Homo sapiens: one gene and its partners. The protein of the gene in region 2 interacts with the protein of the main gene of each other region in a pairwise test. Each region holds a gene or a part of one and is shown on either strand. Other genes may lie near its edges. The genes, in order: TSC22D2, F8 and MAGEB6.

The links.
Region 1: the proteins of F8 (region 2) and TSC22D2 interact in a two-hybrid assay, tested with the Homo sapiens proteins (one study listed by BioGRID).
Region 3: the proteins of F8 (region 2) and MAGEB6 interact in binary tests that used the Homo sapiens proteins (3 or more experiments, as listed by UniProt).

The regions. Positions count from the first base shown.
Region 1 is NC_000003.12:150,452,902-150,460,942, reverse strand, and holds part of TSC22D2 (TSC22 domain family protein 2), read right to left. Parts: intron 3,868-8,041; coding exon 3,816-3,867; exon of another isoform or gene 3,811-3,815; intron 2,568-3,810; coding exon 2,307-2,567; 3' UTR 1-2,306. UniProt on the Homo sapiens protein: Reduces the level of nuclear PKM isoform M2 which results in repression of cyclin CCND1 transcription and reduced cell growth.
Region 2 is NC_000023.11:155,012,337-155,020,377, forward strand, and holds part of F8 (coagulation factor VIII isoform a preproprotein), read right to left. Parts: intron 1-8,041. UniProt on the Homo sapiens protein: Factor VIII, along with calcium and phospholipid, acts as a cofactor for F9/factor IXa when it converts F10/factor X to the activated form, factor Xa.
Region 3 is NC_000023.11:26,187,413-26,195,697, reverse strand, and holds MAGEB6 (melanoma-associated antigen B6), read right to left. Parts: upstream 3,259-8,285; 5' UTR 3,171-3,258; intron 1,913-3,170; 5' UTR 1,852-1,912; coding exon 628-1,851; 3' UTR 52-627; downstream 1-51.

The DNA of each region.
Region 1 (8,041 bases), on a different chromosome or scaffold from region 2:
CTTTTCTACTGTTTTTCTTAATATAAAAGTAGTAATAACTGCTGTTACCATTTTAAACCTTATTATTCATTTCCTTGGAGACTATTACTTTGTTTATGAAGTGTTTTTCCAGCCCCAGAATCAAAATGGAATCTATTTTCACAAAAATCCCATTTCTAAGACTAGTTTTTCTCCACCTGTATTAAATATCACATGTCACAGTTAGCACTGGAGGGGCACAGCCAGCAAACCTTTTCGGTTAACAGTCCAACAGTGAAGTTTCACATTCCATTAAGTATCTCACCTGTAGCAGCTCTACTTGGAATCTTACTACACATCCTTAGGGTTGCTTACTCAAGCCTATGTACTTAGTTCCTTGATTTATAATGTTATTCATTAACATTTTGTTCAATGTCTTGCAGCACAACTAGAATAGAAAATATTTGGCAATCTCATGTACATCCCAATTTTATGCCTTGTTTGTTTGTGGCTAATCTGATTAAATTTTTACTTCAAATAAGTCTTTTAACACGGAGAACTAACTACTGGTTCTCATTAACTCTGATTAGCTAGCTGGCTACAGATGCAGTGCATGTTAATTTCTACAGGCACCTTTCTGAATTCAAGTAAAAGTTTTGGTAGACAAGGATTTCCTACTTAAGTATCACTAACATAATATGAATATTGAGTACAAATATTGCTCACTATTTTTGCATTCTTTAAATTGTTTTACTTTGAAAATTTAAGAACTATCAGTAAGTCATTATTAACAGGTCTTTAAGGAGTATTTTGAACTGTGAAAATACAAATCTAGTCAAATTTTGAACACATATAGAGCCAAATATTTCAACAAAACTGCAGTTTAATTTCAGAAAATGTTAAAATATATATTTATACATCAATTTCTGACATACACTTAATGTGTTAGTATACACAAAATGATGCTTTCTTTTGAAACTGTATTTATGAAATGTACATTTTAATTTAAATACTCAGTATACACTGCACTTAATCTGCATGTTGCATTTATTAAATACATTAAAATCTGCAATGTAACAAAACGTTTTCTGCATACGAAATTCAAAACACCATTTTAAATGAACAAAAGATGGCTCACTTTTTTTTTTTTTTTTTTTTACAACTAGTGTATTGTACACTAGCTCAGCTCCACCAAACTACCTGTTCGTTCTCTTTTATTTGACATTGTTCACAGACTAGTACATATTACAATAAGAGTGCTGGATAAAAACATGAGGTACGAAAGTGGTTCAAAGATTATAGGTCATGCAGATCATGCTAGACAGTAAAGAAAATTGTGACTGAGAAAACACTAAATAAAAATACATAAAGAATGTGCATTATAAAAAAAAAAAAAGACAAAAAAAAAAAAACAACAAAAAAAAACCAAACTCCATTACACAGCTTTGCTTCTTTGGTTACAAAGTAGGTTGAACAATTTCACAGCTTTTTATTCCCACCCGAAAAAAAAGTCATACGAAATGTTGAAAAGCAGAGGAATCGTGGCAATTTCTCTTAGAAAGTAGAAACAAATGAACAAAGTTTTCTTCATCAAAATAGCCCAATTATTTATCATATCACAATAACTGGTGACTACCTGTACAGTTGCACTATGTTCTTCATACTTACACTATACAAAATTTACATTCAAGCTGGGTCTTTACTACTGAAAATAAATACCATAAGTAAATTGCCATTAGTGTTAGAAATATGCCAGGATTCTTTTGTTCAATTATTGCCTAAACGTTTTATCTATTAAATGCAATCCTGTCTTTCACTTCCTTTACTGATACTTATAATTATTCAAAAAAATTAAAAAAGTTCTGTGACATTGTTCATGTACATTATGAAAATAGCAGCCCTGTAATAAATAAAACACAAATAAATGAAAACTTATGTAGGCAAATGTTACTGAATCAGAAAGAAAAGTGGCTCTTTAGATGAACTGTTATTTATAATGTGATAGGAAGGCTCAGGGTAAATCCATGGGTAATAGGAAACATGGGAGAGCCACCAAAACTCTTAAAGACCCCACTCATGCGCACCAGGTAAAATGCAGACTTTGCTCGCTTTAATAAACCCCATCTATTATTCTCCTTGTGTACTGATGACATAGAACTGGACATCAACAGCGCTGCATGACATCTCAGAGAGAGGAAAAGCTCTTGTAGAATGATTGTCTAATACTGAAAAGGCCAAACACACAACCAAAGCATGGCTACTTGCTTTCGTATAAAGTGGAAAGAACACCAGTGGCACACAAGGATAGATTGCTTTCAGTTTTTTTCTTAATGAGGCTTAAGAAAGCTTTATGCTGAGGAGACATTCGGCTGCTGTGGAGGTTGCGTTGGCTGCGGAGGCTGTGCTATCACTGCTTGCTGTTGAGAAGTGCTACCAGGATTGGCCTGTTGGGTTGGGAGTTGGGATAATTGATCATTGCTTGAAAGAGATTTTAACAGTGCATTTTCTCGTTCAAGTAAAGAGTTTCTTTCAACTAATTCTTTTATTTGTTCCTTTAAAACTTCCACTTCTTCTCTTACTGCATACATCAAATGGCTTTTCACCAGATCCTGTGAAAAACAAAATTAGGAATGTCAAAAGAGTGAAAAGATAAAGGTGGTGCTATCTGGTTCTGGCCTACTTGGTGCTAAGTTTTTATACTAGTTTTCCTGCTCTTGCTTTTAATGTTTCTGCTTTATCTTGACCGAGCCTATGGAAGATGGGTTGGAAAAAATCCAGTTCCCAACCAGAGCAGTAAGCCCAGAATTTTCTTTTCAAAGTTTGGGACGATTTCCAAAAAATACTAGCTTCTTAAATTGTCAACTAAGCTTAGAATTAAAAAAAAAAAAAGTTTAAAATCACATGCTTAAAATGGTAGATAAAGAGAACAAAGGAACAATATTCCAACGGAAAGCTGTTTGATGTTAAACTAGTCATAGTACTGCTTTAAAGTGATCTGTAATTTTGGACTTTAAAATTTTGGTATTTTTAAAAAAATAGTTTGAGACTAACAGTCCTGTAAGGTCTCACACCGGTAATCCCAGCACTTTGGGAGGCTGAGGCGTGTAGATCACCTGAGGTCAGGAGTTTGAGACCACCTTGGCCAACATGGTGAAACCCCGTCTCTACTAAGAATACAAAAATTAGCCAGATGTGGTGGTGTGTGCCTGTGCTCCCAACTACTCAGGAGACTGAGGCAGGAGAATCACTTGAACCTGGGAGGTGGAGGTTGCAGTGACCCAAAATCATGCCACTGTACTTCAGCCTGGGTGACAGAGCGAGACTATCTCAAAACAAACAAAAATACCAACTTTTTTTGTAGAGACGGGGTCTTGCTATGTTGCCCAAGTTGGTCTCAAACTCCTGGCCTCAAGTGATCCTCCCACCTCAGCTCAGGTGCTGGGATTACAGACACAATCCACTGTGCCTGGCCTACTTATAGCTTACTTACAGTCTACTTCAATCAGACCTCCAGCTGTTTTTGCTTTAATACTCTTTTTCACTCTAAAGTATTTTCAATGCTGAAATATCTGGGGAACATATTGTCTTTAAATATGTATGCCCCCTCACCAATGGCCCTTATCAATGATAATGCATGAAATGTGAGATATTCAAATGGAAGAAATATCTACTTAAATAGTATTTCTAGACTAAAAGTTCTCAACGTTCTAGCATCTTCAACTAAATCTCATTATCAAAAAACATGATTTGGTCATCTTTGGTTTAAATAACTTATTTGTTTTCTAAAACTGACAAAAGCTAAGTGTTCCATACAACCAACAATCTATGAAATGGGAGAACTGTAAACTTTTACTTACCATTGCTTGTTCTATTTTGTTGTCAATGGCTACAACACCTCCCCCAGATGCACTGGAAAAAATTAGAATATGTTATTATTCTAAAAAATTTAACCTCCCTTCCAACTCTTAAAAGAATGTAAAAGACATTTGTGTTTCACTTAAAACCAAATATACAGTAATTTAAAATAGCTTATTCTGTTCTGACAATTTCAGTACTCAAAGCTCTCATTTCTAAAATGAAAGTCTCAGTAAATAGATGATTTCTACAGGTCCTTTGTAGTGCCAACATTTCTAATTTGCCTGTAATACATGTATGCTACTTTAAAACTAACTCTCAATTGTATTAAGAATTTCTCTGTTCAGTGGTTTTAAAAGGATACATTTTAAATGGGCAGTGTCTTCTCCGTATCTCTTAAATTTCTACATTAACCAACTATACATTCTAATTGCCTTTCATGTAGAAATTCCAATAATTACTTATTGTAGTAAAATTCAGATGATGGCTTGACTTTTTTTTTTCTAGTCCCTCCTCTTAGTAAGACTTTTCTGGTATAAGTTTTATACTTTAACATCTAGTTTTTTAAAAAAAACTTAATGGCTTCTAAAAATGGTTCAGAAAGTCTTTGGGTAGGATTGGTTAACAAGAAACTCAACATTCAGCCGGGCGTGGTGGCTCACGCTTGTAATCCCAGCACTTTGGGAGGCCAAGGAAGGTGGATCACTTGAGGTCAGGAGTTCCAGATCAGCCTGGCCAACGTGGTGAAAACCCATCTCTACTAAAAATACAAAAAAAATTAGCCAGGCTTGGGGCGGGTGCCTGTAATCAGCTACTCAGGAGGCTGAGGCAAGAGAATCACTTGAACCCAGGAGGCAGAGGCTGCAGTGAGCCGAGATCACGCCATTGCAATCCAGCCTGGGCAACAAGAGCAAAACTCCATCTCAAAAAAAAACAAAAAAAAAAAAAACAAAAAGAAACAACATTCTGGCAGACCTACATGTATTTGACTGTAGGTTACTTGCTGGCAAAAATCACCTATAAGGTATGTGTGGTTTAGATCAGTTCTTCTTGGGAATAACTGAAAAGTTATCCAGCCTGTAAGCACATTCCAAGTTCAAATATCACCTTAGCAATTGTATGATAATAACACAGAAGGCTAATTGTCCTCTTTGGTGGTTTATATTCTACCATGTATTAAGTAGTAAGAATAGCTGGAATTTATACCCTTTTATTGTTTTTTAATGAATTTTATTTCTAAAAACAGTTATTAGGTTTTTAAAAATTACTCTTGTAAAGAAAAATCTGATACTGTAGCTTATTGTATCAATACGAAAAGATAATTTTTTATATGTTACTAAATATTCTTCATAAAGTATACTCCACCTAAGATTTTAGTGCTAAAATACCTGGAAACTACTTTACTTTAGATGGTGTGGACCCATAATGTTGTATCAGATTGAGGCTCAGAAATATCCTGTCCTGTGATATCCTGCTATTCACTTCCTATGGGACATCAGCAAATCACCTATTTAACTTCCCTGGATCTGAGTTTCCCCATCTGTAAAACAAGGGGTTGATGTCAATGCCTCAATGGACTTTCCACTTCTAAATCCTTGAAATCTTGAATCATTACATGGGAAACTACGTTTGTTTATTTGAGCATTAACCACATTAATTACAGCATACTACCTTCACTTCTTGCTGCTACTATTTCTAAGATGAAAAGAGGTTTTGTATATCTAATATCTAGAAAGGATTTATGGATCATTAACAAATACTTTATATGTGCTGGGCTTTAAATGCTTTTAGTGAGCTGTGCAAAGTATGACTATATGTAACTATAAACTACAGAACCACTAAGTCAACCATAACGCTTTAGTATATACTTCAGTGCCAGATACCATGCAGACATATTCACCACAAATACTGAACACATTTTGGCAAAAAAGACGGTGACAGGCATTTAAATTAGTTTGCTTGGGAATCCCAGATTATACTTTCTATATTTTTATTGACATGACAAGGAAAGATTGAATTACTTTTAAGTCATGTCATGACTTAAATCATTTGATTCCTTCAACACATTTGGTTTAAATAGCACACCTTAAATACTAACTACAACATCAGTTTTATGTATTAACAAGCAGTAAAAAAAACAAAAATTACTGGGGTTTTTTTTTGATAATTAAAATCAGTCAGCGAGTTTTAGAATGATTCCCATAGCTAAGGAAGAATAGTTAGCATGCTATTCTTTGAATGCTGACCTAACAAACTCTTGTCCTAAGATCTCTTTTATGACAACAGAAGAAACAGGTTTGCAAGGTATAAATAGATCATGATGAAGATGTATCCCTTAAATGGTGTTAATATTTCAACTGTTAGGTGTTGTACTCTAATAGAATAAATCAGTGTCAAATATAATTACTACCACTATAGTGACCTTTAACTATCTTGAAGGCTATTATTCAAGAATTCTATAACCTACTGCAGGGGTCTCAAACTTTAGCATGCACCAGAATCATCTGGAGGTCTTGTTAAAACTCAGGTTGCTGGGCTCCCCCACTCAGAGTTTCTGATTCAGTAGGCATGGAACCAGGAATCTGCATTTCTAACAAGTTCCCAGATGATGTGGAATCTACTGTCTGACTATGCTTTGAGAACTGCTGGCTTACAAATGAAAGTTATAGGAGGAAAAATTAAGAAGCCTAATTCTATTTTTAAAACTTTTTAGCCTGGCATATAAAATTCTTTATGACTTTGACCTCTGCCTTATACAGTCTGTTTTCCTCTTATACTCCATCTGCCTATTGTGTTATGGTCTTATACAACTATTTGTAGTCTGTGGAACATATGTTCTCTCGGGTTTCCTTGGCTTTGCAGAAACTGCTCCCTCAGCTGGAAATGCTCACAGTTCCAATTCATCTGGCTATCTTAGACCTGTCCCTTAAGATGCTCCAGTGCCATCTCTTCTGTGATGCTGTTTGATTTTCTAAGGTAGAGCCAATTACTCCATCCTTTCTGGGGTCTACCAATCTTCGCAAACTTTTTATAGTGCAAAAAGGCAGAATAGCAAATTCTGGCTCCTCCATATACTCACTATATGAATTCTGGGAAATTATTTAACCTTTCTAGACCTCAGTTTTTTCATTTAAAATAAGGATTATATGCCAATTGTGAGGATTAAATGAGTTTACATAATGCATAGTACTTGGCACACTGAGCACTCAATACAGACAGTGATTACTTTGAGTATTGTAATACTACCACTGTTGATCCTATTAGATTGAGCTCTTTGAGAAAGGTTCCATAACTTCTTCATCTTTGTGAATAAGTGAATTCAGTGCTTAGCACATAGTAACTCAATGCATACTGATAGTAATTAGATATGATAGATTTGAAACAATTAATGGTTCATATGAGGAAGGCATTAAAATTTTTTGAGTTCAGATAAATCAGTTCTCAAAGTGTAGTCCCTGAACCAGAATCATCAGCATCACCTGGAAACTTGTCAGAAATGTAAATATTTGGACCCACCAAGACCTTGTTAGAAATGTAAATATTTGGACCCACCCCAGATTTACTCTTGGGGCGGGGCCCCGTAATCTATTTTAACAAACTCTCTAGGCGATTCAGATAGAAACTAAAGTATGAGAACCACTGCTTTAGCCATATTTACGATGGAGATACCAATATGGTAGTCTTAAGCAAATAAGAGACTATTTTATTTCAAGATCCCAGAATATGGTTTAAAAATACTGTTTCAATGAGGGTATCAAGATGTTTTCTATTATGTTCAAAGTTATCATAGTGAGATTTGACTCTTTTAAAATGAGAAAGATCAACTGAAGCAGAATCAATAATTTCCTTCCTTCACCTAATGTTATAATACTATATACCTTGTTTTCTTTTTAATTATTATATTCAGCACATTATATTTTGATGGTTTAACCAGTTTCCAAACTTAAGCTCCCTAAGAAAAGGCTTCCTGTCTTTACTTCCAGCACAAAGTATATATACCCGGTACCCTACAATGGTGGTAGTATAAATATTTCAGATTAGTGTGTATGTATAGATACATACTCAAACTGAAATAAGTCAATTTTAAATCAAGTGTTACAATTACTGCTACAGAAGCATGAGGGAAAAATGAGTTCAGAATTTTCTTTTTTAAACTATTATGGTAAACTGGAAATGCTAAATAAAGTCAAAAGATAATTTTTAAAAATAAACTTTCTATTTACTATGA
Region 2 (8,041 bases):
CCTTGCTTTGTTGCTCAGGCTGGAGTGCAGTAGCATGATCCATAGTTAATTGCAGCCTTGAACTCTTGGGCTCAAGTGATCCTCCTGCCTCAGCCTTCCAAGTAGCTGGGACTACAGGCATATGTTACCACACTTGGCTAATGAAAAAAAATTCTGTAGAAGTCAAGTCTTGTTATGTTGCCCAGGCTGATCTCAAACTCCTGGCCTAGAGCAATCCTGCTGCCTCCTCCCAAAGTGTTGGGGTTACAGGTGTGAGCCACCATGCCCAGTCTCAAATGGAATTTCTTAAAAGAAATTATTAAAATTTATCCTATAAGAAATAGAAAATTCAAATAGCCCTTTACCTATTAAAAATAGAATTCACAATTAAGACCCTTAAAAAAAAAACCAAACCAAAACAAAAAACACTGGGATAAGATGATTTCCCTGGTGAATAAACATTTAAAAAAGAAATGATACCAATTCTACACAAACTCTTTCATTAAATAGAAGAGTGAACACGTCTCAACTCATTTTATAAGAATAGTCAGCCGGGCGCGGTGGCTCACGCTTGTAATCCCAGCACTTTGGGAGGCCGAGGTGGGCGGATCATGAGGTCAGGAGATCGAGACTATCCTGGCTAACACGGTGAAACCCCGTCTCTACTATCAGTATAAAAAATTAGCCAGGCGTGGTGGCGGGCGCCTGTCGTCCCAGCTACTCGGGAGGCTGAGGCAGGAGAATGGCGTGAACCCGGGAGGCGGAGCTTGCAGTGAGCCGAGATCGCACCACTGCACTCCAGCCTGGGTGACAGAGCGAGACTCCGTCTCAAAAAAAAAAAAAAAAAAAAAAAGAATAGTCTTACTCTTTGATATGGTTTGGCTGTGTCCCCACCTAAATCTCATCTTGAATTGTAGCTCCCACAATCCCCATGTGCTGTGAGAGGGACCAGGTGGGAGGTAATTGAATCATGGCAGTGGGGTTTTCCCATGCTGTTCACATTATAGTGAATAAGTCTCATGAGGGCTGATGGTTTTATAAAGGGCAGTTCTCCTGTACAATGCTCTCTTGTCTGCCACCATGCCATATAAGATGTGTCTTTGCTCCTCCTTTGCCTTCCACCATGATTGTGAGGCCTCCCCAGCCATGTGGAACTGTGAGTCCATTAAATCTCTTTCCTTTATAAATTACCCAGTCTCGGGTATGTCCTCATAGCAGCATTAGAACGGACTAATACCACTCTTATATCAAAACCAGACAATGACATTATAAGAAAATCACAGCCAAATATCCATCATGAACACAGACGCAAAAACTAAAAAACCACCATCACCACCAAAACCCTTAACAAAACAGTTTTAGTTGGCCAGGGCTGCCATAACAAAATACTAGAGATTGGGTGACTTAAACAACAGAAACTTATTTTCTCACAGTTCCGGAGGCTGGAAATCCAATATCAGGGTGCCAGCACGGTCAGTTTCTAGTGGAGCCCTCTTCCCAGCTGGTAGATGGCTGCCTTCTCGCTGTATGTTCACATGGCTTTTCCTCAGTGCATGAGTGTAGAGAGAGAACCTTCTCTCTTCTTATGAGGCCACCAGTCCTATCAGATTAGGACTCCATCCTTATGGCCTCATTTAACCTTGTTTACCTCCTAAAAGCCCTATCTCCAAATATAATCATCTTGAGAGTTAGGACTTCAACATATGAATTTGGGGTGGGGGGAGGTGGAGACAATTCAGTCCATAGCGAAAATATTACCAATGTAATATGTCACAACCAGGTGGATTTTTTCCCTGGGAATACATAGCTAGTTCCTCATTAAAAAATCAATCAAGGTAATTCACCATAACAGAATAAACAAGATAAACCATATGACCATTTGAATAGATGCAGAAAAAGCATTTGACAAAATCTAATATCAAATCTTGATAAAAACTCTCACACCAAGAATAGAAGGAAACTTCCTCAATTTGACAAAGGGCATCTATGAAAAAATTTACAAGTAATTGTACTTAATGGTAAAATAATGAATATTTTCCCTCTGAAATCAGGAAGAAGACAAGGATTCTGCTATCATCAGTTCTATCTAACATTGTACTGGAGGCCCTTGCCAGTACAGTAAGGCATGAAAAAAAAAATAAAAAGCATCCAGTTTGGAAAGGAAGAAGCAAACTGTCTTTATTTGCAGACAACATTATTGTATATGTAGAAATTCTAAAAGAAGTGCAAAACGCTACTAGAGCTAAAATGCAAATTAACAAGATTAGAGTGAACAAGGTCAATATACAAAAATCAATTGAATTTCTATATTTTAGTAACAAATGATTGGAAAACGAAAACAAATAAAAATGATACAATTAACAATAGCATCGAATCCCTCAAAATACTTGGGGATACAATTAATATAATTCTTGCAAGAACTACTCTGTAGGCTACAAAATATCCTAGAGGGAAATTAAAGAAAATTTAAAGAAACAAAGCCATACCATGTTGTTGTATTGAAAGATTCAGTATTGTTTAAATGTCAATTCTCCCCAAATTGATCTACAGATTCAATTCAATTCCAGTCAAAATCCCAGTTGGCTATTTGGTGGAGTTGGCTAGTTGACTATAAAATTAATACAGAAATATAAAAGCCTAAATATATCAAAAGCAATTTCAATAAAAAAGTAAGTTGGAGGTTTTAGACTGCCTGATATTAAGACTTACTATAAAGTTACAACAATCAAAACAATCTGGTACTGGCATAAGCACAGATATACACATCTATGGAACTAGAGAATCCATAAACAGATTTGCCTATATACAGTCATTTAATTTTCTACAAAGGCACCAAGGGAATTCAATAGAGAAAGAAAAGTCACACCATACAGAAAATTTAACTCAAAATGTATTATAAACCTAAATACTAATGCTAAAATGATAAAAGTTCTAGAAGAAAACAGAAGAAAGGCTTTGTGAACTTGAGGTGGGCAAAGATTTCCTAGGACAGGGGAAAAAAAAGCATGAATCATAGAAGAAGAAAAGCTAAATTGGACTTAACTACAACTATAAATTTCCACTATTTGAAAGACACCATTTGGAAAATGAAAATGCAAGCCATAGATTGGAAAAAAACATTCAAAACAGGTACCTCTGAATAGTCTTGTACCCAGAATATATAAAAAATTATCAAAACTCAACAATAACAAGACAAACAACCCAATTAAAAACTGGCAAACCATTATCCTAAGTGAATTAACACAGGAACTGAAAACCAAATACCATATGTTCTCACTTAGAAGTGGGAGCTAAATGATGAGAACACATGGACATAGAATAATAGACACTGGAGACGACTAGAGGAAAGAGGGAGGAGGAAGGGTAGCAAGGAGTGAAAAACCACCTATTGGGTACTATGTTCACTACTTCAGTGACAGGATCATTCATTCGTAACCCAAACTTCAGCACCATGCAACATACTCATGTAACAAACCTGCACATGTACCTCCTCAGTCTAAAATAAAAGTTGAAACTACGTTTAAAAACAAAGGACCAATGATTTGAATAGACACTTCCAAGAAGATATAGGAATGGCTAATTAGCACATGCAAAGATGCTCAACATCTTTAGTCATCAGAGACACGCAAATTAAAAGTATAACCAGGTGCAGTGGCTCAAGCCGTAATCCCAACATTTTGGGAGGCCGAGGCGGGTGGATCACTTGAGGCCAGGAGTTTGAGACCAGCCTGGCCAACATGGCAAAACCCCGTCTCTACCAAAAATACAAAAATTAGCTGGGCACGGTGGCGTGTGACCATAGTCCTAGCTACTCAGGAGGCTGAGGCATGAGAATTGCTTGAGCCTAGGAGGCAGATGTTGAGCTGAGATTGCGCCACTGCACTCCAGCCTGTGTGATGGGATGAGATTCCATCTCAAAAAAAAAAAAAAGTATAGTGAGATACCACTGTGCAGTCATTAAGTACTGGCAACATCAAATGTTGTCCAGGATATATTGCAACTGGAACTCTCATGCATTGCTGGTGGGAGTATAGAATGGTACGTTCAAGAAATCTGTCTGGCAGTTTCTCTTAAACATGCACTTACCATATGATCCAGCAATTCCACTCCTAGATATTTAACTAAGATAAATGAAAATAGATGTTCACACAAAACATGTGGAGCACTGTTCATAGCAGGTTTATTTGTATTTGCTCCTAACTGGAAATAATCCAAAATTATGATATAATCCCATAATGGAGCAGTAATCAGCAATAAAAAGGATAGAAATACTTTATACAACAACCTGCATGAATTTCCAAATCATGATGCTGAAGAAAAAAAGCCATAGAAGAATACATACCGTATGATTCCACTGATGTAAAATTCTAGAACATGTGAAAACAAATCTGTAACTTCCAGATAGCAGTTTATTGGCTGAGGCCAGGTCAGTGGGAGAGACTCATTAAAAAGTTGCAGGAGGGTTGATGTAAATGCATGTTGATTAGGGTGGTGGTTATGCAAGTGTATGCATTTGTCAAAACTCATCAAACTGCATATTTAAAATTGATGAGCTTCATTGTATGTAAACTATACCTGTGGCAGGTAAAAATTTGGCCCACATCACCTTTGCTCCTTGGTGTCATGTCCAAAAATATATTATGTGGCAAATTAAACTTTGCAGATGGAATTAAGGGGCTGATTAGCTGACCTTGAGATGGGGAGAGTATTCTGAATTACCCAGGTCGGCCCAATGTAATCACATGAGTCCTTAAAAGTAAAAGAGAGAGGCAAAAAAGGCCAGAGATATGCACGGAAAATTGAAGTCAGAGCAATTCCAAGCATGAGAGAGTGTTGATGCACCATTGCTGGTAGAGGGCACTACATGGAAAGTGAGAGAAGGAACTGAATTTGCTAACATTCCAAATGAGCCTGTAAGCAGATTCTCCCCAAGAGCTTTCACTAAGGAGTGCAGCCCTATTAAAACCTTGGTGTTGGCCTTGTATGACCCTGCACAGAGTATCCAGCTGAGTCCACCTGGACTTCTAACTCACAGAAACTGTGAGACAGTAAATGGGTCTGTCATAAGCTGATACATTTGATGTAGTTTGTTACACAGCAATAGGAAATTAACAGGATATTCAATGTTGACCCAAATACTACAAACTAACTTGATAAACAAATTTAAAAAGCAATTAAAATCATACGTCTAGATTATCAAAGATGAAATCAAAGAAGATATTACAAACTATTCTGAAAAAAATGAAAAGAAAACCCTTCATGCTATACCATTTTACAATGTATACTTACATCAAAACATTATCTTGTACACCTTAAATATATACAACTTTTATTTGTCAATTATACCACAATAAAGCTGGGGTGGGGTGGGATAGAATTACCTGGGGACTAAATAGTTTGCTGAGGATGGGGCCTAGGAATGTAAATTTTAATAAGCTTCCCGAGTGATTCTTATGCACACTGAAGTTTGAGAACTAGTGCCTTCATGGACTTCAGCTTTGGGGTGAGCTTTAAGAAAGTCAGGGTCCAGTTAATGAATATGAGAGATACTGCTTTTTTTTATTTTTTTATTTTTTGAAATGGAGTCTCACTCTGTCACCTAGGCTGAGCACAATCTTAGCTCACTGCCACCTCCGCCTCCTAGGTTCAAGCAATTCTCCTGCCTCAGCCTCCTCAGTAGCTGGGATTACAGGTGAGCACCACCATGCCCAGCTAATTTTTTTTTTTTTTTTGGTAGACACGGAGTTTTGCCATGTTGGCTAGGCTGGTGTCAAACTCCTGACCTCAGGTGATCTGCCTGCCTCGGCCTCCCAAAGTGCTGGGATTACAGGCATGAACCACCATACCTGGCCGATTGCTTATTTATATCTCCAAGCTTCACTGATCAGAAAATACTTTTCCTGAAAAGTTATCCTACAGAAATCAGATCATGTTGAGAGGATAAGTCTCTGGAATGTTAATAAAGGTATATGGAGCTAGCATAGTTGAACTGTTCACTTTTTGCATAAGAAATCTCACTGTTCATGTTTTCCCATCAGACAAAATAAAACAGACTGACGAGTTTTATATATTAATGTGTGAACAGTGCATAGCTACATGCCAATAAAGCAGCACAGTTAATGAATCAATAGCTTCTTTTTCTGCTCAGTGAAAATAAAAATGCTTTATACCAACTAGAAAAAAAAAAAATCCAAAAGCCCATTCTTTGAAAAGAGCACCACCAGCAACAAAATAGACAAGTCATTGGCAAGCTTATTCAAGGAAAAAAAGATAAATAGCAAAGATAGAGGAATTTAGGAATAAGAAAGGGCACATAACTACAGATAATGTGGAGTAAAAGAATCATGAGTGAGTGCTACATGCAACACTGTGGCAACAAAATTGAAAAAATAAATAAAGTTACTTCCTAGAAAGGTATATAATTATTGGAAGTTGAAACTTGAATTGACTGATTATCATAGAAGAGCCTGGAGGGGTGATTAAAGATATTGCAAATGCCACTAGGACCAAATGGATTCATAAGTGAGTCTCACCTAACTTTTAGACAATGGATAATTCAAATGTTACTTAAGCTATTCTAAGCAATAGAAAAAGATGGAGTACTCATCAATTCATTTGATAAAGCCAACAAAACTTTGTTTATTATTATTAGTAGGTTGAGTAGTGAAAATCTACTAAGAATAGTCTAAAGAAATAGTACATAGAACCCACTAATGATCAAATTCCATGAATAGTAGATTTTACTCCAAGAATGTAAGGGTATTTAGTGTCAGGACATCTATGAACATAATTTGTTCATCAGCATATCAAAGAAGACAATTCAGATGATACCAGCTGCTGAAAACTTATTTATGATAAACATTTTGTGGCAAATGAGAATAGAATAAACACCATTTACAAAAACCAAAACAGCAAATGTTACTCTAAATAGCAAAATACAAAAATTATTTCAAGTAAAATCATAGAGTAGAAGGAATGTTCACTTTCATTGTTATTATTTAACATTTGCTCTTGTTTTCTAATAAATTCAATAAGATAAGAAAATGAAATAACTGGCTATAAATATTGGAAATGAGCTAAAATCTGTCTCATTTAACTTATGATATGATTCAATACTCACAGAGACTTTAGGGTAAAATTACTAGAATTAATAGGCAAATTTGGTAAGGTAGCTAGATTTAAGATGAATATACAATGGCTGGGTGCGGTGGCTCAAACCTGTAATCCTAGCTCTTTGGGAGGCTGAGGTGGGGGGAATGCTTGAGCTCAGGAGTTGAAAACCAGCCTGGGTAACATGGCAAAAACCCATCTCTAAAAAATATACAAAAATTTTCCGGGCATGGTGGCCTGCTCCTGTAGTCCCAGCTACTTGGGGGGCTGATATACAGGAGAATTGCTTGAATCCAGGAGGTTGAGGCTGCAGTAAGGTGAGATCACCCCACTGCACTCCAGCCTGGGTGACAAAATGAGACCCAGGCTCAAAAGAAAAAGCTGAAAATACACAAACCAATAGCTTATCTCTATTTGGTACTAAGCACTCATAAATGGAAATAGGAGAAAACTATCTTATTAACAATAGCATCACACTTATAAAATACACAGAGATAAATGTAATAAGAAAAATATTTAAATTTATTACATTAATAAAATTAAGGTCTGAGTTTAATGAAATTGCAGTTAGAATCACAACAGGGCTTGGATCTTTTTAATTTGAAAAATATCTTAACAGTTTTATGTGGAAGAATAAAGTGTCTAAGAATAGCTAAGAAAGGTACAAAAAGAATAGTGAGGATTGCTTTCACCCACCAGATATCAGAAGATATCATAGGCTCACTGTAATCAAATCACTATGGTACTGGCATAGCAAGATAATAGTAGATTAGTGAAACAGCCTAATGAATCCAGAAATATATGCTAATATATATGAGAACTTTATATGATGAATGTGTTGATTCAAATCAGTGGCAAAAGGTGCCATCACAATAGGCTATTGATCTGGATGGAAATAAAACTAGACAAATCCCTCTCTCATGCCATATGACAAAAGTAATTAGCAGATAAT
Region 3 (8,285 bases), about 130 Mb from region 2:
AACATGGAATATGAAGTGCACTAGAACAAAACAAACTAACGGCAGTCTTAATAACCTAAATAAATCCAGGTATCCTTTATTTGTATGAAAAGAAATAGGAAAACGAATTAGGCAAACCAAGAATTAAACAACTTTTACATTTCTGTTTTTCCTTTTCTTTCTCTTCATATTATGATGTCAACTATTTTACTGTGGAGTTAAGATTCATATGAAAATCAATTCTCTGTTACCATGTTATCTAGTTCTCAATTACAAAGAAAATGTGTTGTATGACTTTGTTTTATTAATTCCCAAACCGTAACTTTCAGATTGGTTAAACAGCCATGAATGTGAGAGCTATGTTATTGATAATTGTATAATCTGAAGCAAAATAAACCTTCACTTAACAGGAACAATGTTGATAACTGACAGAGATAAAACATAAATCTGCAAGTTACTCATGTGTAACAAAAGAAAGATACATATCTTGTTCCCTCCAGCCTCTACTATACTGCACTACTTAGAAAGCTCACTACTCTCTTCTAACATAAAGTGAAAATTCTACTTCAGACCTCCCTAGAAATGGGAGGATCTGTAGGATATGGCCCCATAAGGTACCCTGGCCAAGGAAATAGTGCCAGCCCTGCCTTAAGCTCTCAGTCTCAATGCTCTCTCTACCTCATCTATCAAAGCGTCTTCATACAGATGTGGGTATAAACCGGGACTGGTGTTACTGCTGTCGGCCAAAACACGCAGGACTCTCATCTTGGTGGTTTCAGCATAGGCTCGTGGACCCCACAGGAACTCATAGCATGGAGGATCACTGTTGCACACCTGCCGGTAAACCACGTACTTATCTTGCACCAAATCTTCAGTAATGATCTTCCGAGCATCCCCATAGATTGAATGCAGGATCCCATCATATATCCCCAACAGACCCAGGAACTCCCAGACCTCCTCTTCAGTGGCACAGTTGCCGTTCATGAAGATCACAACCAGGAGCGACATCAGGAGACCCGACTTCGGCAGCGCATTATCACCACTCAGAATTCCTTCACTGGGGAGGCCTAGCTTGCTGACAAGGGTGTAGGACTCGCCGCTGGAATCCATTTCTTTCAATTCAACGCCAAAGGCCACCACCAAATGTTGGGAGGTTCTGTTGAGGATCTGAGGGAAGTAGGGCTTGTACTCTCTGCGGACACACTTCAGCATGTCTGCCTTCAAAATGGACTCTTTCTTCTCAAACTTCTTCTGCAGGAATTGCGCCAACGTGCACGCCTTCTTCTTTACAGCATCTTTGCTTAAGCGCTTAAAAATGATGGCTTTCTGTGAGGCGCTTACACTTTCCTCATCTTCACCCTCGGCAGCCACATCATATTTTGAGCCTGAAACACCTGCATCAGGCGAGCCAGTGGGTGAAGCTCCCTGAGACTCCTGAGGAACGGAGACATCATGGGAAGTGCTTGGACTTTTCTCATCTTGGCCGTTGGCAGCCACATCATATTTTGAGCCTGAAACACCTGCATCAGGAGAGCCAGTGGGTGAAGCTCCCTGAGACTCCTGAGGAACGGAGGCATCACGGGAGGTGCTTGGACTTTTCTCATCTTGGCCGTTGGCAGCCACATCGGATTTTGAATATGAAACAACTGCATCAGGAGACCCAGTGGGTGACACTCCCTGAGACTCCTGAGGAATGGAGGCATCAGAAGACCTACGACAATCACCCAGACAAGCGCGAGAAGAGGATGAGGAAGAGTGGGACTCTTCCTGCTTCTCTGCAGTGGCCTGGGGACCCGTGAGACCCTGTGGCTGACCATTGGTCTCTTGGCGTTTCTCACAGGTACGGAGCTTACTCTTGTGACCCCGAGGCATGATGGCTGTGGCCTGTGACAGCAGGTAGGAGTGTGGGTAGGAAGACTAGGAAGGCTGGCACCTGGATGGGAGAGAGTGACGTCACGTCAATATCTTCAGCAGAGAGCGACCATCTTGGCTTTAACTAGGGCCCCTTCTGCAGGTTTCCGCAGAACAGCTGCTCTAGGAACCCACAGGACTCCTTTTCTCCTGGTCAGTTTGTCTCCTTCAAACTCAGGAGGAAGTTAGAGTATTAGACTATAGCATGACAGCCCATTTTGGGGCTTACTGAGGTGACAGCAGGGGCTGGCAGTGGGGGCCCCTCTGTTCAGGGGTTGGATCCTCTCTGTTTACATTCAGGATCATCATTAAAACTGGAAACCATCATTCTCAGCAAACTATCGCAAGGACAAAAAACCAAACACCGCATGTTCTCACTCATAGGTGGGAAGTTAACAGTGAGAACACATGGACACAGGAAGGGGAACATCACACTCCGAGGACTGTTGTGGGGTGGGGGGAGGGGGGAGGGATAGCATTAGGAGATATACCTAGTGCTAAATGACGAGTTAATGGGTGCAGCACACCAGCATGGCACATGTATACATATGTAACAAACCTGCACATTGTGCACATGTACCCTAAAACTTAAAGTATAATAAAAAAAAAATTGTTGACAAGACCCAGAGGCCCATTTCCTTGTGCCACTCTGAAATTGACAGTAGGAATTTTAACCCGGAGGAAATAAGGAAGCACTTCTGCCCAACACTTCATTCCGGGGACACCCAGACCACCTAGGGCTGACAACAGCGGAGGCATTTGAGTGCTCTTCCAGTTATAGTGAGAATGCTCCTCACAGTAATTAGACTCCTCACCCTGACTCTTCCCACAACCTGGAAATCACCCTCACTGACCTGCTGCCATCTCCTTACAACCAGGGGCCTACCTCTCTGACTCTCACAGGGACAAAGTGAGAATGCACCTCAGTCTCTAGAGACCTGCCCGGACCCCCAGGCTAACGTCAAGGGCAGAGTTCGGTGCAACCCGTTACGGGACATGGAATCCCCTCCCTCAATTCTAAGGAGGGTCCTCTTAACTATGTAGGGCCTGAGATTTCTCCCTCTACTGACCTGGGTCCACAAGCCTTGGACCGAGGCCTTCATGTTCTTCAACACGACGGAAAAAAATGAATGGACTTTGGGCCTAACAGCCATGTTTGGGGACTCCTCAGGGACCAGGTCGGGGCAGGTTGGGGCAGGGCTCTGTGGAGCCGCCTTTCTTCGGGGGAAGGGGGTTGAAGTTGTCGGGGAATGCCCCCCGTTCTAGGTCAGGATACCCACCAAGACAGCTGAGAAGATCTGGGACGCCTCCTTCCGCTGACGTGACAGCACTTTTCAGGCTCAGGCGACCGGCTCAGACCCCTTTATTAGGTGGAAGTCAAGAGGAACCACTTCCGGCCACGCCCACCTGGCGCTCCCTGCGTAACAGTAGCTGCAGGGCTCTGTTACTCCCCCTTGTGTTCTGTGGGTGCAGCAGATTCCAGGGAACTCACGTAAAGTTCTTTCAGGGGCTCTTCGCGGACCCTTGGACTTCTCTATCTGTTGAGCTGAATCAGTCAACCGGAGATAGAGGCTCTCATTCCCTGAGAGTCCAGAGTTGGAAGTAAGGTGCAGCCTGAGCTCGGGAGCCATGCCGGGACCTTCCAAGACTGACAGTAGGGGTGGAGCTCTGTGAGACCCCCTTTTTGGAATGGACTTTGCCCTCAGCCCTCACTCAGTGTCGTCGCTTCATTCTTGCCATGTCCCCTCTACTGACTTGAGGACACCCTCTCAGACTAGACTTCAACTTCCTGAGACTCCTCATGTGCAATTCAGTTACACCTCACCTGGCCACTACTGCCTGGGGCCTCCTAAACCTGGCTGCTGCTATTAAGTTGTGATGCAAGATCGGGGAATGAAGGGAGATTTGGGGGGCACTCTTGTCTCTTCTGATATGTGGAGCCCCTCAGTCCTCACTCAGGGTCCTCACATTGACTGCTGGCAGGGTCTCAGTTTTCTCCATTTTCTGATGTAAATTCATCCCCTTCCTCTGACTAGATCCTGTAAAATTCATAAGGAGAAAGTGAGAAGACTTCTTAGCCTGATAGCTATGTCTGGGACTTCTCTCTTGGCTGACATCAGTGTCTGTATTCAACACCTTCATGAATGAATTTCTACCATTATCTTGTGTGACTCACTGCAATATTTGCTATCCTAATTTAGTCCATTCTTTATATTATATTAAAATAATACGAATTTAAAGGCCAGTCCACTTCCACTAAAGAAGTTTCAGGTAGTTATTAGCACAGTGTCTGGATTCATACTTCTTCAGCCTACCCAGATGTTTTTGCTGTGGCAATATTACCCCATGGAACTGGCACATAGGGTCCAAGTTTCTGACTGAATTTCCTTTAGTGAAGCAGAAAAAAAAATGCATTGTCCAATGGCACAGTGAAAGAAGCAAAGACCAAAGTTTTAAAGCTTTTCCTCTAGCCAATTCCGTTATCTGCGTCTGTTGTAGGCCACAGACCTGTCTCTACTTCAGCTCATGCCCCTACCTGCCCACACACCCATTCTTGTTCAATACAAACTGACCATCTCTCAAGGTTCGCATTTTTGTTGTTTTGCTGTTGTTAATACTGCTTTTTTTTTAAAAAAAAATTCTTCCTTTAACTTTTCTATGGTTGAGTTTGGTCATGGGAAAGAACCACCCGGGTTTGGTTGTCATCTTCACAGCTATGGCTAAGGCAATGAATCTGTAAAAAATTTAAGGAGAATCAATAACTTTACAATATCTCCTCCACAGTAAATAAACATAGTACACTGCTTTATTGGAGATTTATTTTTCCTAAGTCTTTCAGTAAATTTTTATAGCTGTCTCCTTAATGAACATGTACATTTCTATTTGGTTTTCTGTTAGATATATTTTGGATATTGTTGCTGTTGTGAAAGGCATATTTCACATTACATATTATAATTAGTTATTGATTTTGTGTGACTATACTCCTGACTTACCTATGGTGATCTTTTGTACACACGTTTTCTTTATTTCCTTATACATTTAAATATTTTTGCACCAATTACGTTGTTTTATTTTTAAATTAGGAGATTATATTATCACAATTATCTCCTTTTGTTATTGTTACCTCTAATTTACTCGGTATTATTATTATAGTTGTGAACTATAGATGTATTTTCATCCAGTTGTCAGCAGTAGGGTTTATACTATACAGGTGTATATTCTTCTGGACTCTATTCGGGATGTTTGTAATGTTTCACATTTAGTATGTCAATTATAGATTTTACAAGATGGAAATTCTCTCCTAATGTAAGTTTGCTAAAAGTTACTATCATACACTGGTATTGAGGGTTTTTTAAGGCTTCTCCTTTACCCCTGCACATGATCACATGCTTTTTCACCATTTTTGGTAACATAGTGATTTCCAATTGATGGTATTTTCTAATATGGTATCATCTTTGCATTTCTTGGATGCAGGCTATTTATTCATTAATTCACTGCTATATTGGATATGCCTATATTGGATATACTATGAATTTATTGAGAATATTTTGTCTCTATGTGAATGAACTGATCTCAAATGTTGTTTTATTGGACTATCTTCATCTGGTCTTTGTGTCAAAGAAAGCAAGCTTGTTAAAATGATGGAGTAATTCTCCCAATCTTTTCGTGTTGTTTGGAAGAGTTTACATGAAGTGGTGATTAGTTTCTTCTTCACCATTTGATGTAATGGGTCTCTAAACCTGGCTGGTCCTAAAACAGTTTGAAGGTACTTTGGGTTTGGACTATAGTTTCATTTTCTACTGTGCATTCAAAGAGTTCTGTATTTTTATGAGTCATTTTCATTTTGCTAAAAATTGTTCCATTTTACTTAGGTTTTCATATTTAAAAGCATGATATTCATAATAAAATCCTGTTATGGAAATTCTCAAATATATGCAGTAGTACAGAGAATAGAATAATAAACTCAATTAGCTAAGATTTGTCACTAATAATCTTCAATTTTTATGAGTAGAATATTGTTCATATTAAAGTTTATTGGCAAGTGCACTCCAGAGGTGATATGGTGCAGTTTCATTAAGAGATATATAATTTCTGTTGTTTCTTTTGTGATGATGTTGGCAGCCATCACTTTTATCCATTAATCTATCATGGGTTGCAAGATGGTAATTCTCTGATTCTAAAATTCTTTTGAGTTTATTACCCGAAATTTTTCAGATAGAACCTTCTCCTTGTCCATCATTTGTTATCTTGAGATACAGATAATACTTGATAACACTTACGGTGTTCTCTATTAGTATTACATCTTTTCTACACCTAAGTTTTGTATAATTTTACTTATCTAATATCATTTATTTCTGCTTTTTTCATTTGTAATTGATGGTACTCATACACATTGTTATATAAATCCTTTCAAAGAACTGGCTTTTACTAGTTGGTTTGACTATTTTCTCATTTATCACTTTTGAATTTATCTTCATTATTCCTACCTTCTTCTTTGTGTTTAATATGCTATTCATTCTCTAGCTTCTTGAATTGTTACAATGTTTCAAACTTTTTTATAGTAAATCTATTTAATGCAATAAATATCCCCATAAGTACTGCTTGGGCTACTTTTCAACAATTATGCTAATAGAACTTTATGTGTAGAGCTCAATTTTTTTACAAGCTGAACATATATCTCTTAATGCTCTATAATATTTTCAATATCTAAATATAAATATATGTATATATTTTGTGTGTGTGTTTATGCATACAAAAACTAGGGAGTGTAAAATTTATTTAGGACAGAAACAGAGAATTATTTAAAGGAGGTTTAAAGAGCCATGGTATGTTGTGTTGTGTTATATTTTACTTAATGATAGAAGACACTTGAGCAAATTTAATTACTAATGACAGAATGGATGTTTTTTTAAGCAGCCATTCTTAAAATGGCTGCTTAAAATTGTTAATGGCTGAAAGAGCTTCAGATGAGAAAATCAATACAAATAATTAGCTAACTGCAAATATTCATGGGTTATTCCAGGAAAACAAACTACTCTAAATATATAACACAGGGATGGAGTTTTAATGGGCATACTTTATTTTGTAGAGCAGTTTCCAAGTTTACAGAAAAATTCGGTGGTAAATACAAAGAATTCTCTTATACCCTCTCATCGGTTCACACACAGTTTCTCCTATTATTATCACACATTAATGTGGTATACTTGTTAAAATTGATGAGCTAATATTGATACATTTTTATTAATTAAAGTTAACCATTTATATTAGAGTTTAATCTTTCTATTATATATCTTATGGGTTTTTTAAAATGAATGACACGTACACACTATAACAGTATCATACAGAACAGTTTCACTATACTAAAAAAAATCCACTGTGTTCCCCTTATTCCCCCATCCCCCCAGAACCCCCCTTTTTTTAACTGTCTCCATAATTTTGCCTTTTCCAGAATGTCATATAGTTAGAATCCTACAGCATGTAACCTTTTCAAATAGGCTACTTTCACTTAGCAATATGCATTTAGGCTCCTGCATGTCTTTTCATAGCTTAATAACACATTGTTTAATCACTAAACAATATTTCATTGTATGCTTGTGGGACACTTAATTCTTGTTGGTTTCTGCTAAGTTTTGACAATTAGGAATAAAGCTGCTTTGAACATTTGTATTCAAGTTTTGGTGTGGACATCAGTTTTCAACCCATTTGACTAAATACCAAGGAGAGTAACTGCTGAATCATATGACGAGAGTATTTTAATTTTGTAAGATATTGACAAACTGTCTTCCAACGAGGCTGTACCATCTTTGCACTGCCATCATTACTGAATGAGAGATTCTATGCCCTACATCCTCTCCAGTATGTGTCTTGTCAGTGTTTTGGATTTTATCCACTCTAATACATGTGTAGTGATATCTGATTGTTGTTTTAATTTGCAGTTCCCTAATGATCCATGATATAAAGCATCTTTTCATCTTTGTGCTTGTTTGTAGAGAATTGATATCATTCCTTCCTAAAGATTTGACAGCATTCACCAGTGAGCTCATTTGGGACTGTTGTTTACTCTTTTGGAAGCTTATCAGTCATTGATTCAATTTCTTTAATAGATATAGGCCTATTAAGATGATCTCAGTCTCCTTGTGTGAGTTTTGGTAGATTGTGTCTTTCAAGGAATTGGTCTGTCTCATCTAGGTTACCAAGTTGGTGGGCATAGAATTTTTCATAACATTCCTTTACTATCTGTTTAATGTCAATAGAATAATCAGTGATGGCCTTTCTTTCATTTTTGACATTAGCAATTTGTGTCTTCTCTCTTCTTTTCTTAGTTAATGTGACTGGAGGTTTATTAATTTTATTAATCTTATCAAAGGACTGCCTTTTAGTTTTGCTGATTTTCT